Linked DNA regions of Homo sapiens. The protein of the gene in region 1 interacts with the protein of each later gene in a biochemical or structural test. Each region holds a gene or a part of one and is shown in the gene's direction. Other genes may lie near its edges.

What was found.
Region 2: the proteins of OBI1 (region 1) and CNOT9 form a complex in vitro, tested with the Homo sapiens proteins (one study listed by BioGRID).

The regions. Positions count from the first base shown.
Region 1 is NC_000013.11:78,648,877-78,652,693, reverse strand, and holds part of OBI1 (ORC ubiquitin ligase 1), read left to right. Parts: intron 1-3,817. UniProt on the Homo sapiens protein: E3 ubiquitin ligase essential for DNA replication origin activation during S phase.
Region 2 is NC_000002.12:218,567,519-218,571,789, forward strand, and holds the start of CNOT9 (CCR4-NOT transcription complex subunit 9), read left to right. Parts: upstream 1-1,320; 5' UTR 1,321-1,436; coding exon 1,437-1,460; intron 1,461-4,271. UniProt on the Homo sapiens protein: Component of the CCR4-NOT complex which is one of the major cellular mRNA deadenylases and is linked to various cellular processes including bulk mRNA degradation, miRNA-mediated repression, translational repression during translational initiation and general transcription regulation.

The DNA.
Region 1 (3,817 bases):
TGCTCCTTAGGAGAGTCTAATGCCTGATGTTCTGAGGTGAAACCCCCCAGTCTGTGGAAAAATTATCTTCCACGAAACCAGTCCCTAGTGCCAAAAAGGTTGGGGACCGCTCCCTAGGATACCACTTTACTATGCTTACTCCAGATGAGTTTGGAATTGTATGTCACTTACCATTGCCATTTTTTTGTCTTGCATTTTTATTTCATGAGTACTGTTTTATTGCCACGGGTCTCATTTGAGAGTAAATTGGATAGAAAGTCTAATAATGTGACAAATGATGACCTTTTTTTTTTTGTCTTGGGAAGATCTTATTAAAGAAAATTATGTGTGTGTTTTGTTCTACCCAGAGCAGGATCTGGGTAGAAGAGGATGGGTGCTAGATTCTTTGTGTTTTGCTACCACAGATTACAGTCAAATATATAACAAGTAACTTGTTTTAGTAGTTCTTTAGAAATTTCTATTCTCGTAAGATAAATTCATTGAGTTGTCTAGAAATCATCATCTGATAAATACTCATTCCAATATTCATTTCCAAAGAAATGAATTAGTCACCTGTTTCCGAAATCTTCCCAACACAAAGGTGGTGATAATACCAGGTATCCAAAGGTGCAGAAAACTTTCCTGTGGGTGACATTGTTAATGACTCTTAGCAGACAGAGCCAAGCAGTCGGCCTGTGGTGGTGGTTCTGTATCATTTTGTCATATTAAATGGGGAGGTTAAACTTTTGCTTTTTTACAGTTTGACAGTGGCTGTTGACCTTTTGCTGCTTGAAGCACTTTTAGGATTGTTATCTCAGCCTTTCATTATAGTACATCAAAATTCACTTTTATTAATCTTGCAGTTGTTAGAGATGAGAAGGACACTCACCCTATTGTCAGTGAGCCTGAAATCTAATAAGGAAGACAGGATGTAAGCAGTTTCTAAGTACAGCACAATGCAGAAAGAGGTGAACATTAAATAAATGAACAGAGAGTGCCCTATCAAAGACTTGGTTAATTCTGAAAAAGATTAATGAAGGGCTTGCAGAGGAGGTGGCATTTTATTTGCATCTTAAAAGGAGGGAAGGAATTTTTTTTTTATTACTGTCAGGAGGATGGAGAGACCAGGAGGATATATCAAGCTGAGAAATGGAAGCTCTATAAATAGGGAGCCCCATAAACAGGGAGCCCCCAGTGTTCATATTCTTATTGGTGAACATAAGTAGACCTGTGAGGTTGAAGTGTGCATTGTGTCAAATATTGAAATGGTAGGTCAAGGGAAATGGCTGTTTAAGAATTAGATTATGTTCTTTGAAGGCTATACCTCGAACTATGAGCAGGAAAAAAATCATTACTGTTTTGTAGGAGAGGAGTGAAAGCTGCTTATTCATATTTTAGGAAGGTAGCTCTGGCATCATTGTGAAAGATGTACTGAAATGAACATTTGGAAGCTTGGGAGGTGGTCATTGCAGTAGATCAAAGACAAAAGAATGAGAACCTTAAATTCATTGGGGTGAAGATGCAAAGGAAAGGATAGATGAGAGGTGAAAGAATGTTTGGAGGTAGATTTGTCATGTTTTGACTATTCTGAGATGTACATTTTTTTTCAAATTATAACATCTCTGGAATCTGATTGTATCTTAACAATTGTAATTGACAGTTTTTCATTCTTAGTGATACATAAAATATTGGTGAATCTTCAAATCTGTGGCTTCTTAGACTTAATGTATAATACCAGCGTCTGGTGACAGTTTGGATGGTGAGGATAAGTAAAAAGAGTGATTCAGAGATAGCTCTGTTGTAGCTCAAGTGGAGAAGTAGTGATCTCATTAACTTAGGTGGGAGGGTGTGCAGGAAGAGGAGCAAGTGTGTAGTGGAGGCCAAATTATGGTTGAGGCAGCTGCAGGATCCTTATATGTAGTCGGCTCCTAGGCACTTGGATATAGTAATATTACCTTTTTTTTTTTTTTTGAGGGATTGCTATGTAGAAGTGTCTGTGCTGACATCCATTATATTATCTTAAACCTGAATGAAAAGGTTACTAGGTTAAGCCACAGTTTTCAGAGGCAGAAACTGATGCCCACAGTAGCTAAAGGGCTTACCCAAGGTCAGACTGCTCAATAAATGGCAGAACTGGAGTTGGCCCCAGGTTTGTCTGTCAGAGCCTAAGCTCTGCCACTTACTGACTCCAGTTACAGAGGGAGACTTGGGAGTTGTCAGCATAGAATAGATGTTAATGCCATGTGACACATGAGATTGAGAGAGAAAATAGAACACATCAGATAAGATGGCCCAGAACAAAACATTAGAGAAGGCAGTTATACCACCTTTAGTATCTTGACTATAAGCATCCCACTCTCTGATCCTGTTTCTATCATACTTATTCTCTACCATTACTTCAACCTCATGGAGACATTTTTGTTGACCCTATCACTTTTTCACTGTTATCATTACCGCTTGTGTACTTGTTTCCCTTATTATTCGTGGTCATTTGTTATCATCAGTCCCTGTCTCTTCCTCCTTGGCAAAACCCCAACTCTGGGTAAACCAAACTACTCATCTACTTCCTTCCTGAGTCTCCACAGCTAAATATTGATAAGAAAAATACACACCTACGTTAATTAATCTTACTTTGCATTAGAAACCACAGACCTGGAAAAGGAACTCAACAATGTATAGCAATCTGCTACCTATCCCTAGTAAATTAGCTTTCTCACTTTTCAAAATTACTGCTTTATTCTCCTGTCTTCTCAAATCTGTAACCCACTTCCCTTCTCGTTTTCAGCTGATAACTTCACCTCATATTTGATGACAAAAGATAAGCAGCTGAGATAGTGGGAACATGAATTTCCTCATTTTTCCATCCACAGATCTTCCAACCCCTTTGTGTTTGTTCACACACCCCCTATTTTCCCTTCTGTTGCAAAAGAAGACAAACCCTCACTCCTGTATGTGCCAAAATCTCCTTTTGTGCTTTGGATCCCTTTCCCCTCTTGACTTCTTAGGGACTTTGTTGCCTATCGCTGTAATACCCCCATCACTCTTCATCCATCACTAATATCCTCTCTTTATCATTCCCATTGGTATTCCTAACCGTCGTCTCATTTTTATGCTCTCTCCTTTACAGCAAAACATGAAAGAATTGTCTGTATTTTCTGTCTTCACTTCTTCATCTTTCATTGTCTCTCAACCTCCAGTCAGGTTTCCATCCCCAACATTCGCTGAAACAGTGCTTGTCGGTAACTGATCAGAGTGACTTCCAAGCAGTTAAATCCCATAGTCACATCTCAGTGCACATCAAACTCAATCTCACATCAATATTTTACTTATCTGGCCGCTGCCTCTCTCTTGAAAAACTTTCTTGCCTTGACTTCTGTGATATCATATTCTCCTTTCCTACATCACAGGACCCCTCCTTGTCAGTTTCCTCTGCTGGTTGCTCTTCCTCTTCCTTTGCTTGCTGGAGTGCCTTCTTTTCTCCAGCTGTTTTGTCCATTCATGAGATCTCCTCCAGTCCTATGGCCTTATATGCTCATGTCTTTTATGGCAGTGACTCAAAACCTGCCTTGTTGAACTTGTCCACTTAAAAATGGGCTTAGCATCACAAATTTAGCATGGCTAAAACAGAATTCTTGATTTTTACCTTGTGCGAAATCTGCTTTTCTTGTCTTTGCCACTTCAGTATATGATAACACCAACTACTGAGTTGCTCAAAACCATTTCATAGATTGGGGAGATAATATTTAACCTTTGTTGTGGGAGCAAATACATGAAAAATACTGATTCTTTTTTTTTTTTTTTGAGATGGCATTTTGCTCTTGTTGCCCAGGCTGGAGTG
Region 2 (4,271 bases), on another chromosome or scaffold:
CATTCCCTCTCAGGTATCTCTTCCAGTTAGACACTTGTCAGGAATTGCCACCTCAATAAAGGAATTTATACAGAGCTGAAATTTTGAGAGGAATACCCCAAAACCACTTTAGGACAACTCTTCAGGACACAGGATTTTATCATCAATCATCATTTCCTTTCATGGATCATGACTTAAAATAGTTACATCTAACAACCTGATCTGGCGGCTAGAAATGGGCGCAAGGAAATGCACAACAAAAATACAATTCATGTTTTGCAGTGAGGACTGGTCAAGAGGAAGGTGAAGATGGTCAAGAGAGTGAATGAGTATCATGTCCAAGGCCTGGTGGATGTGCCGTAACGAAAGTCACCTGAAGAGACAGCAGGCCCTGTTAGAAGGTAAGAGGCGAACGACAACAGCCCCAGAGAAAAGGGGCCAGGTTTGAGTTTCGGAGGGAGCGAGTGGCAGTGGAGACCAAGTCAAAGGAGAGGTGGAAGCCGGGGCAGTGCACCCAAAGGTAGTACCTGTGAGGCTGGGGGTGCATCGAGGGGTTGTGGGCGGGCTGAGTAGCAGCAGGGCGAACTCCAGAGGAGTGAACGCCGAGTGGGCGGATCGCACAGAAGGAGGAGGAGGTAGGGAAAACGGCTCAATTGAGAAGCTACCCCGGCCCGCCTTACCTGCGCCGAGGGTCCGGAGCCCCCGGACAGACCCGCGGAAAGCACGGAGCCCGCGAGGAGTGGGAGGAGCCGAGGGTAATGGAAGTAGGGATACCGAACCCAAAGGAGGGAGGCCGCTAGCTACCCCTAGTCAGGGAGAGCGGCTGATGGCGGGAACTGTGACCACACGCAAACACGCACGCACGCACGCACACTCGACGCGACCAGACAGGCGCGTGCGCGTCAGTCGAAAACTCCGCCCCTCACACGCCCTCGCCCCGCCCCGCCAGTACCTAGAGCGGCCTAGCCCGGGCAGCCCCGCCCCTGCCGTGACTGTAGTAGGCACGCGCACTTTCCACCTCACCCGATTTCGACGCCCCCCCACCATTTCCCTCCTACGCAACCCAGTCGGGCATGCGCAATAGTTGTCTTGCCGGGACTGTCCATCTTTTCCCGCCGTTCACTGGCTTTTGGAGGAGGGTCAGAGTTCACGCCGCTCTCTGGAAATAACTGCTCAAAGCCAGAAGTTGCGGGGACTAGTGGTCGCGGACGTCCTTCCGGTCCTAAATCTTAAGGGGCAAAGGACATACTCTGGGACTGTTAACTAGGCCCTGGAGGCGGGAAGAGGATGTGTGGGTGGGGTCAGGGGTGAGAGGTCAGAGGGCCGCGAAGTGGGCGGAGCGAGCCGGAGTCGGATGGCGGCTACGGCGGCTCATTGTTTTCCGCTGCAGGGGTGCTGAAGGGGGGACGCGGGTCGGACGCGTCCGGCTGTGGAAGAGAGCGGCGGCCGCTCACAACATGCACAGCCTGGCGACGGCTGCGGTGAGTGGCTGGGCCCCCAGGCTTGGAACCAGAATCCTTTCTCAGACCCACGTTTCGGCCTTCTCTCCTAATTCCCGGTGTCGGGTCCCTAGTCTGATTTTTTTCTGCCCTCAATCTCCAAGGCCCCGGTTCCCCTCCTCGGCACGCTTTGGTTGTGGTGGAGCCGGCCCCTATTTCCTTGCCGGACGCCTCTCGCGGCCTTCAGCGCGACCCATCGCGTTCTTTGCGGGCGCCGGGGCCTGGTCCCACGCCCGTAGCAGGCCATTCATTGATTTATTGCGCTGACCAACAGTTTCAGGGCGCCAGTTGTGTTCTGGGCGCCGGCGTCGATGAGGGGAATTCCATGGTCAATCTGACGCGGCCCCTGCTCTTAGAACTCACCACGTCGCAGCGGGAAGGAAATGGCTTCTAGTTCAAACCACTTGCTTTATTTATGGAAAACCTGAGGCCCGGAAAAGTGCATAATTTTTGCATCTGACTTAGGTTCTCTGCATTTAAAACTTTTCCTCGACACATCTCGTTTTACCCGCGTGATCTTTTAACAAAAAAGAAAGATAGTGTAATTCAGCTATCCGAAGTAATCCTACTTCTCTTGGCATTTAAATAAAATCTAGACTCCTTGCCATAGCCTGCACGGCCCTGTATGATGTGGTACTTAACCCACGTTTATAATCTCGTTTTATGTCTCTTGCTCCTAAAGCTTCAGCTACTCTGGCCACCTAACCCTCTGCAACGCGCTTATTTTTCTCCAAGATGCACTTTGTGGTCTCTATGCCTGGAGTGAATGTTCTTCTTATCCCTCCTCCTTTACATACACAGCATGAGTGTAATTGGTACCTCTTCCTTGAACTCTCCTTCCTCTCCTTAAACTGTTTATCCAAATCCATCTTTCTTCAGGTCTCTGCCTAAATCGGTCTCAGAGTGGCCTTCCCTGACTATCCTCTTCAAATTAGTTCCGCAGCCTCTAACTTTAGTAGAGTACCCTTTACAGCCCTGATCCCCGTGTAATTATTGTATTCGTTTATTTGTTGTCTGTCTCCTTGAGGGCAGGGACAGGGATCATGTGAGCCCTGTTGACGTGGTTTCCCCGGTGCCAGGACAGTTCCTAGTACAAGATTAAAGACTCAGATACTTTGCTGCATGAAAGAATATTGAAGGGAAGGTGACCACTGAAAGAACATTGCCATGATGGGGAAAGGAGATCATTTGATTTGAGCATACCTGCCTGAAGACCAATTCTGCTTTTTCTGTTTAACCAAAGGGAAATGATTTAAGGAAAGTAATGTACTGAAATTGTATTATCAGGCAAAATGACGTAATTACTAAATAAAGCACCAAAAATTGCCATACGTTTAAGTACAAAAAGTGAAAAATTGAGCCAAGTATGACTAAGCTATAGAAAACTGCTTTTTGAGATTTGATCTCCATTGTCAGTTCCAGTGCTGTTGGTATCTCTGCCTCCTTTCATACTGTTTCTAAGTGTTTGTAACTATTCAATGTAGAGAGTATCTTTTATATCTCAATTAGGTCATTGCAATTCCCCTAGCTTTTTTGTTCCTTCTCCCAAATTATATATGTAACGTGGGGAAAAGCAAGTTGAAAGATGAGTGTGCTGCTATTAGGGGAAAGACAGGTTAAATAAGGGAAATTATTCTAAGGTTGACTTGTCCATCTCTCAAAATCTGATTGTGTCTTCTCCCGAATTTTATCTTCGATACTGAGCCACTCTTTTCCCTGTGCCTTCCCAAACTCTGTAGCTATTCCTTTTATTTTCAATTGCTCCCTAATGCATCTTTTAAACAACCATTAAAGCTGTGGTACATTACTTATAATAAGTACTCAATACATGTTTCTTCACGTTTTCAGTGCCTTACATTAATTTTAAAATTTGAACTTTTAGATGCACTTTCACTTAGGATGTTTGGACCTCGTAGCAGCTCTGACAAATTCCTTCGTACCACTCATTCACTAGGTTATATTTAGCTAGTGAGGAAACTAAAACGTAAAAAGTTGAGCCACCTCATTCTCAATTCTTCATGCCTTCCGTTGGAGCAAACTGCATTATTCTGATGTGGGTAAAGGGACAGTAATGATGCATATCACTCACTGGAATTTGAGAAGCATAATTAATGCATGCAACCGTGCCCAGAATAATCAAAGCCACTTGAGAAGATGCTTACTTTCTGCCGAACAATGAAAGTGTGTATCTGTGACTTTATTTATCTCTTTTTTAAAATAGTAGGTAAATCATCATTTCAGCTAGGGAGATAACAAAGTACTGCCAAATGAGAATGTAAGCCGGGTGGTGTGTGCCCATAGTCCCAGCTACTTGGGAGGCTAAGGAGGGAGGACACTTCACCCCAGGAGTTCCAGGCTACTGTGTGCTATGAAGGCACCTGTGAATGGCCACTGGACTCCAGCTTGAGCAACATAGCAAGACTTTGTCTATTAAGAGAGAGAGAGAATGTAGTCACATGTAAATGCAGGATATTATTCACTAGAAGGAAAAATTAAGATAGTATGGGAAGTATCTTAAATTTTGACTCTTGAGTAGTCGTATGCTAGAAATGTTTAGTGTAGTAGGCTTTTGTGATTCTTTTTTTTTTTTTTGAGATAGAGTTTTGCTCTTGTTGCCCAGGCTGGTGTGCAATAGCGAGATCTCAGCTCACAGCAATCTCCGCCTCCTGGGTTCAAGCAATTCTCCTGCCTCAACCTCCCAAGTAGCTGGGATTACAGGCATTAGCCACGACGCCTGGCTAATTTTTTTTTTTTTTTTTTGTATTTTTAGTAGAGATGGGGTTTCTTCATGTT